Linked DNA regions of Homo sapiens. The protein of the gene in region 1 purifies or fractionates together with the protein of each later gene. This does not show direct contact. Each region holds a gene or a part of one and is shown in the gene's direction. Other genes may lie near its edges.

What was found. Proteins that work in one complex are often made in the same cells at the same time.
Region 2: the proteins of DENND11 (region 1) and CD226 purify together in Homo sapiens (co-immunoprecipitation; one large-scale study listed by IntAct). This does not show direct contact.

Annotation. Positions count from the first base shown.
Region 1 is NC_000007.14:141,684,817-141,688,970, reverse strand, and holds part of DENND11 (DENN domain-containing protein 11), read left to right. Parts: intron 1-2,312; coding exon 2,313-2,412; intron 2,413-3,334; coding exon 3,335-3,493; intron 3,494-4,154.
Region 2 is NC_000018.10:69,857,374-69,860,873, reverse strand, and holds part of CD226 (CD226 antigen isoform a precursor), read left to right. Parts: 3' UTR 1-3,500.

The DNA of each region.
Region 1 (4,154 bases):
TGAGTATGAGGAGGACAGAGCCTATCGAGGGTCATTGTAGCTCTGTCCCAGACAGTCCCTTTCCTCTGCTGACCATATACTGCCACTGTTAAGCGTTAGGAGCGTGTATACAGAGGCCCAAGCAGGGGCTCTTATTGCTGGCATGCATCAGCAGAATCACCCTGTGGCAGGGCAGGGAAGATGGTGATTCTATAGACCTAGGGTAGCCCCTGGCACCTTTTAAAGCTCCCTAGCTGTCCTGATGCATTCCACAGGAAAAAAACGACTGGACTGTGAAGGTAATAGACATGGATGGTAGGGGAAAATATAGGAAAGCGTGGGGGAACTTGGTGCTTAAAAAACTCGTCTTATCCCCAAGGTCACCCCTCTTTCTTTCTGAGTGCTTTTTCTTATCTTTGACCCTGACAAACATAACATTGTTCGAGGCTTTCTGCTTTATGAACTCTTAATTCCTTTTTCATGCTTTTCACTTTAGTGAATTGACTAAATGATCAGAATCATAATTCCTCTTTTGAAAATAAACTATTTGAAAGTGACTTGGGCTGTTGAGTGTGAGATTCGACAATGCTCTATGATATCTACCATGTCCTGAGACTAGATTGTGTATTCCCTGATGCCCTGAACAATTATCTGAAAGCGTTGTTTGGCTGGGATCATTGATGGTTTTTCTAATGCCTAGCAAATTAGGATTTGGAGTGTTAATAAGAAGTTTGTTCTGAAATGAAATCTCACAAATAGCTTAGTGTTTTGCTTTAAACCCTTTTGAATATGCATGAAAACAACAGGGAGTATTCTATAGTGTTCTCTCAAGACTCTAGATAACACTGCTATTGTGTAGTTCCCTGATTCCCGCAGCCCGAGGCATGCTTGTACTTTTAAAATCCTACTTTGGCCTAGAGCGGTGGCTCACACCTGTAATCCCAACACTTTGGGAGGCCGAGGCAGGTGGATCACCTGAGGTCAGGAGTTGAAGACCAGCCTGGGCAACTTGGTGAAACCCCATCTCTACTAAAAATACAAAAAAAATAGCTGGGCATGGCCGGGTGCGGTGGCTCACGCCTGTAATCCCAGCACTTTGGGAGGCTGAGGTGGGCGGATCACAAGGTCAGGAGATTGAGACCATCCTGGCTAACATGGTGAAACCCCGTCTCCACTAAAAATACAAAAAATTAGCCGGGCCTGGTGGCAGGTGCCTGTAGTCCCAGCTACTGGGGAGGCTGAGGCGGGAGAATGGCATGAACCTGGGAGGCGGAGCTTGCATTGAGCCGAGATCGCGCCACTGCACTCCAGCCTGGGTGACAAGAGCAAGACTCTGTCTCAAAAAAAAAAAAAAAAAAAATTAGCCGAGTGTGCTGGTATGCGCCTGTAATCCCAGCTACGTGGGAGGCTGAGGCAGGAGAATCGCCTTGAACCTGGGAGGTGGAGCTTGCAGTGACCCGAGATTGTGCCACTGCACTCCAGCCTGGGCGACAAAGTGAAACTCAGTCTCGAGAAAAAAAAAAAAAAATCGCACCTTATCCTCTGTCATAACATTGATCCCACTGCACTGTAACTGCTGATCTCCTCTAGCTCTCCTCATTTCTCTCTGGAATCTAATCTCACTGAGGTCAGGGACTTTGTATCTCCAGCATCTAGCTCAGGAGAAACTGAATAATCAATGATGAGTGAATGAGTCCCAAAATTCTGGAAGCAAATATCATTGTCCCTTGAAGAAGGACCTCACTTAGAGAGGAGAGAGAGAGGAGGGGAAACAGAGTTACATTGGTCAGAGAGGTAGGAAAAGCACTAAAATAGTATTCTATCATGAAAATCCAGGAAAAAGAGGAGAAATGTTTGAGGAATTAGCAAATGCTACCTAGAGGTAAACGAGAATGAGAATTTAAAAAATGTTTTGGGATTTTTTCCCAGTCATTAGTGGCTATAGATAGAATCAAGATCTCAAGGGATTAAGGGGAGAACACAAGATAAGGAAATGAGGGTGGAAGGTTAAAAAAACATGCAGAGAAGTGAGGCTACAAAAAGCAGATTTGGAAGTGGTTGAGCAGAATGACAGAAGCAAACGCAGCATCCTCATGAGGGAGGAGAACAGTGTTTGAGGGCAGAAATGGGAGGTTCTTTTAGTGTCCACCTCCACGTCCTCCGGCGTCACCCCTGCCAGTGATGGAGGGGCTGAGCTCTGAGCATCTCGCTGGTCTGTCTGAGGCTGAGTCAGCAGTCGGTTTATTGAAAAGCCATGTGTGCTAAGCCCTGTACTAACCCATTTTCTTTGAATGATGTTGTTTCTTTTAACTTGCATCTTCCTTTTCCTGCAGGAAACATGGTAGAATGGTGCTTACCTCAAGATATTGACCTTGAAGGTGTTGAGTTCAAGTCTATGGCCAGTGGGTCCCATAAAATCCAATCTGATTTCATGTAAGTACTTCTGAACTGGAGTCATCTTCGTACCATTCCCCCCACCTCCACACTTTCCCCAAAGCTGAAGGGCTCTTATTAGGAGGTCTTCGTGTGCTGTGTGTAAATGCCTTGAAAATACATGGATAGTTTTGTGTTTACATCATTTTTCTAGTGAGATGTCTAGCTTTCATCAGATTCTCAATGGGCTTCATGACCTGCAAATCTTAAGAATCCCTGCCTGTAGAGGTTCTCTCACTTTCTCAGAAATTACATGGACCTCACTTGAGGTTTGGTTTTAATGAAAGTGCACAGTTTCAGCCCCGTGTGAGTTAACTGAGGATATCTATGTGTTCAACCTTGAAATTTCAGCTTTAAGTAAGGCCATTTTTTAGTCCTGTGTAGTGGGGCATTCAGAGAGTTTTGCGAGAAGGAACAATGGAAAGAGCTTAAGGGTAATGAAGTGGCTTTAATCTCCTCATGGGGCTTAATTCATGATTGATACAAGTGTGAGAAGAGGAGGAAATAAAATGGCAGCTCAGTGAAAAATATCAGAGCCTCAGGAAGTAAGGGAAGAATCACTGTGGTTTATGCTACGAAAGAGAGTCCAAGTTCCAGAGGAGCCTGAAGAGGAATGTTGGTTCTGCTTCACCCATCCAAGTCATTAGTCGTGGTGCAGGAGAGAAGAGATGTGTCCATGATTGTGGGCAGCTGAGCGGCAGGCTTGCCACGGACTAAGTCCCAGCTCCAGCCAAGTGACCCTTGGCAAGTTATGTAATCTCTTCAAGCTCATCAGTGAGGTCATGTGGCTTGGCCCGCTTGTTTTCTTGAGGCTGAGCTTTGTCATTGACAGCCCCGAACACAGTTCATTTGTTTTGTTTAGGATTGCATCTCAAAATTCCTCTCTGATCTTGAGCCACACTACGTATTTGGTCTCTTCTAGCTATTTCCGAAAGGGGCCCTTCTTCGGCCTGGCCTGCTTTGCCAACATGCCCGTGGAGAGCGAGCTGGAACGTGGCGCGCGGATGAAGTCTGTGGGCATCCTCTCTCCCTCCTACACACTGCTTTACCGCTACATGCACTTCTTGGAGAACCAGGTTCGGTACGTGGCTTCCGTACATGTGCAGGGAGGCAGCAGGATCCACCAGCTGGTGCATATGGCACGAGCCCTCGGAGACAGCATTTGCGTGCCAGAGCAGCAGATGTCTTTCCAAGAACATCCATGGCGATGTTTCACGCCTCGGGTGGTGTCCTTTCGTTTCAGCCAACGTCCTGCATGATGAGTCTTCACTCTATAATGAAAGCTGGGGTATATTCTGCCTTCAGTTTGGATTTAATACTACCATCACTTTTTAAAATTAAGTCATTTTTTGACAGGTACATGATCTTTGTTTATGCAAAGCCGCAATAGTTACCTCCTTGCCCCAAGTAGGCAAAGAAATCCTAAACTTTCTTAAAGCCTACTTCTTTTATTATTGGGATTCTTACTATGATTGGGATAATAGAAAGAGAACTTAAAAATATATATATATATATATATATATATATATTTTTTTTTTTTTTTTTTGGTAGAGACAGGCTCTTACTATATTGCCCAGGCTGGTCCTGAACTCCTGCAGTCAAGTGATCCTCCTGCCTCAGCCTGCCAAAGAGCTGAGATTATAGGCATGAGCCAAGGTGCCTGGCATAGGAAGAGAATTTTTAACAGAAGCAGCAAAACGATTAGTTACTTTACATTTTTTTCATCATGCAGGTAACCTAAT
Region 2 (3,500 bases), on another chromosome or scaffold:
TTATAAAGTGTAAGTGGAGACGCTAAATTGTGAGTACAAAGTTTCTTTTTCACAACAGTGATAAGAAAATATCTTTAAAAAATATAAGACAATATAAACATGTCATCATTAGTTTAGCTACTATTAAAATGTAACATCTAGAAAGTACTGATCTCCACCTTCAGACTTCTGTATAAGTATATTTTTTCACTGATCTGTTCATTAGAGTTCTTCCAGCCAAGACTCTGGGCTCTTAAAACATGTATCTGAAAACTAAAAACAAGTTAATTTTTTTAAAAGCTTCTCTATTTCTAGTGATTCAATAGGTAGAAAAATAGCTTCTAGAATTAACTGCAATGCTTTCTAAGGAAATTTTATAAATCCTCAAGGTCGGTTTACACATATTTTTCCAGATTCAGAGCACTAACTATCTTGTAAGATGTAAGAAAAGGTCCATTTGGAAGTATGAGTAATAAATGTCTGGGATAATTCTGGTTTATTTCGTATTATCCTTGTTAGAATAAGTTATATGGTCAACCTGTTCAGAACACTTTTTCTAGTGTTAGTGTGTACTTTTGGATTTTTGGTTCTTGTAGGGTATAGAAATATTTTCCTTTGTCTTGTATTCTGTTGTTTTGAATGAATAAAACACAATGTTTCACGATCACTACTTTCATTTGCCATGGAGAAATAGCAGGGAAAAATTTCTACAGAATAAAATTAACTGATGAATTACATGCAGAAAAAATTCAAATCAATGATACATTGTAATTTTTATCTCAATGCAATGTTCTTTGTATTTTATTTTATTATTATTTTTTTGAGACGGAGTTTCACTTTTGTTGCCCGGGCTGGAGTGCAATGGCACAATCTCGGCTCACCACAACCTCTGCCTCCCGGATTCAAGTGATTCTCCTGCCTCAGCCTCCTGAATAGCTGGGATTACAGGCATATGCCAACATGCCTGGCTAATTTTGTATTTTTAGTGGAGACGGGGTTTCTCCACGTTGGTCAGACTTGTCTTGAACTCTGGACCTCAGGTGATCCACCTGCCTCAGCCTCCTAAATTGCTGGGATTACAGGCATGAGCGACCACTCCTGGCCTTGTTCTTTGTATTTTATAAGTGCATGTAGTGCAAAGGGTCAAAGGGCTTTACAGGTTTTTTGTTTGTTTGTTTTTGTTTTTCCCGAAACATAGTAGTCCCTTGCCCTTCCTCATTTTTGTTACCTTGAGACAACAAATTTTACTACTTCTAACTCATTATTTTATTTATGTTCACTTTTCTGAATAGCATGCTTATGACACTAATACTTTTTTTTTCAATTTTAGACATTCATTATTCATTTAGATGTCTTTCTCTCCCCAAACTCACCACATAAAATACTCTTCTCATGTCTCTTTCAGAAATATTTGTATTAAAATATGATTATATCAATATTTGGCATTTATTTCTTATGACCTTGCCAGTACTCTTAGTTAAACTACATGGTAAAAATGATTTTGCTTTCCCTCCTACATAACTTTTTTTCCACCTAGAGCTAATAATTGTCATTCTGGGGACTGACTTTTTCTGTATTTACCATAAATTGACCTGAAACTCCCCTGTGATGCAGCAGGAATTCTACCAACGTCAACTTCCTTAGAAAGACTCCATTAGAAGCTTGACTTGGGGCTAGAAGGAGAGGCACACAACTGCCATCCTGGTGTCTCCCTTCATCCAGAAAAAGGGGGAGGAATACATGAAACCTAGAATCCACTCTAAAACATTTTCCAGAACAAAAGGACATGTGTTTCCGTGTTGTAAATGTTTAACGAGTGCCCATAACAAGGAATAATAAGTCTATTATGTTTGCTTTTGTGTCTGTAAAAGTTGGGGGTATTGGTTGTAAGCACGAAAACAGATACTGACTGTTGAAGAAAAAAAAAAATACGAGGTCAGGAGTTTGAGACCAACTTGGCCAATATGGTGAAACCCTGTCTTAGTAAAAATAGAAAAATTAGCCAGGCCTGGTGGCACGCACCTGTAGTCCCAGCTACTTGGGAGGCTGAGGCAGAAGAATCGCTTGAACCCGGGAGGCAGAGGTTGCAGTGAGCCAAGATCGCACCACTGCACTCCACCCTGGGCAACAGAGCGAGACTCCGTCTCAAAAAAAAAAAAAAAAAAAAAAAAAAAAAGTTAAGTATTTGAACATAGGGGTGGCTCATAGAATTCCCAGGACACCCGATGGAGTAGGCTTGCAAAACACAACATGTGGCAACTCCAGTGGGAAACGAGGCAGGAAACACTCGTTTCCTGCAGAAAGCAACAATTTGGGCTTCGATACCCTCCCTAGAACACAGGGCAGTGAATCTGAGCAGCATCAGTACCCCACGTTCGGATGAGTCCTGAGCCCCTATTTTTATTCACTGACTTATTCCAAAATCAGTGTCTCTTAAATATATCTGGAAGGCAGCAGCTTGTATCTCCCCCTTCAGCTTCCATAGTGGCAGTCAGGGTACAACTTACTTTCCAAACAGAACACACTGCGACATTCCCTCCAGGCTCGTTGAAGAACTTCAACTGACAAATGTCCCTCCTCGACCAGATGATAGTTTTCTTAAAGGCAGGGTTTAATATACCCTTTTATAAATGTTTCAAGGCCCTGTGTAATACCTGAGTTTATTCCAGATGTAACTAAATATATCCAAGATTGTTTTAAAATAAATTGCTGAAAAAACAAATAAATACAGTTAGTATCTATATCAATATTCTCAGTTGGCAGTTTTGCAATAATGGCCGATAGTTCATTTTTAGTAACACTATTGACATTGCATTTGGATATTAGGGTTTACTAATCATCCGCATGTATACATTGCATATTTTTCTAGACTTTAACTTTATTCAAATCTATTGATTTTTAAACCTGCAACTTATGTCTAGACACAGGTATACCTTTACAAGAACTACCATTTTTTTTGGTAACATACTACCTCCAAAATTTCAAGTAAGAAGTTGATTTTTGTCCATTTTTAAATGGAAAACTTGTAATCAAAATGCCACAAAATTATACTGTGTATCATTTGACCTATAGAAACCAATATTATTACAGGAAGAAAGCAGAGCCAATCTTCTACCTGTGGTCAAATAAGTGGAGGCCCTTTCTAGACTAAGTTCTCATGAGTTTAAAATACCAAGCATAAGTTCTCCAAATTCCTGAAAAGGAAGCCTTGTGTTGTATTGCCCAGCCATATTTGTAAGACATAAAAATAAAACTTGAGAAGAAGCTATGATAACTTACTTTCTTCATTCTTCAAAATTTACATAATCTCAACTGATTTTATGTTTTTATGAAAATGCATTCTTAAGATATATCCTTATTCAATCATGTATTCATTACATCCTTTATGCCAGGTATCCAAAAGTACTTACAGTGACTAAGACCATTATTCTTTGATCAGCTGCCTGAGTAAGACTTTGAGCTCTCCAATATACTCTCAGTGATACTAAGTTTTCTGAGTAACAGCTTTGGATGTGGCTTCA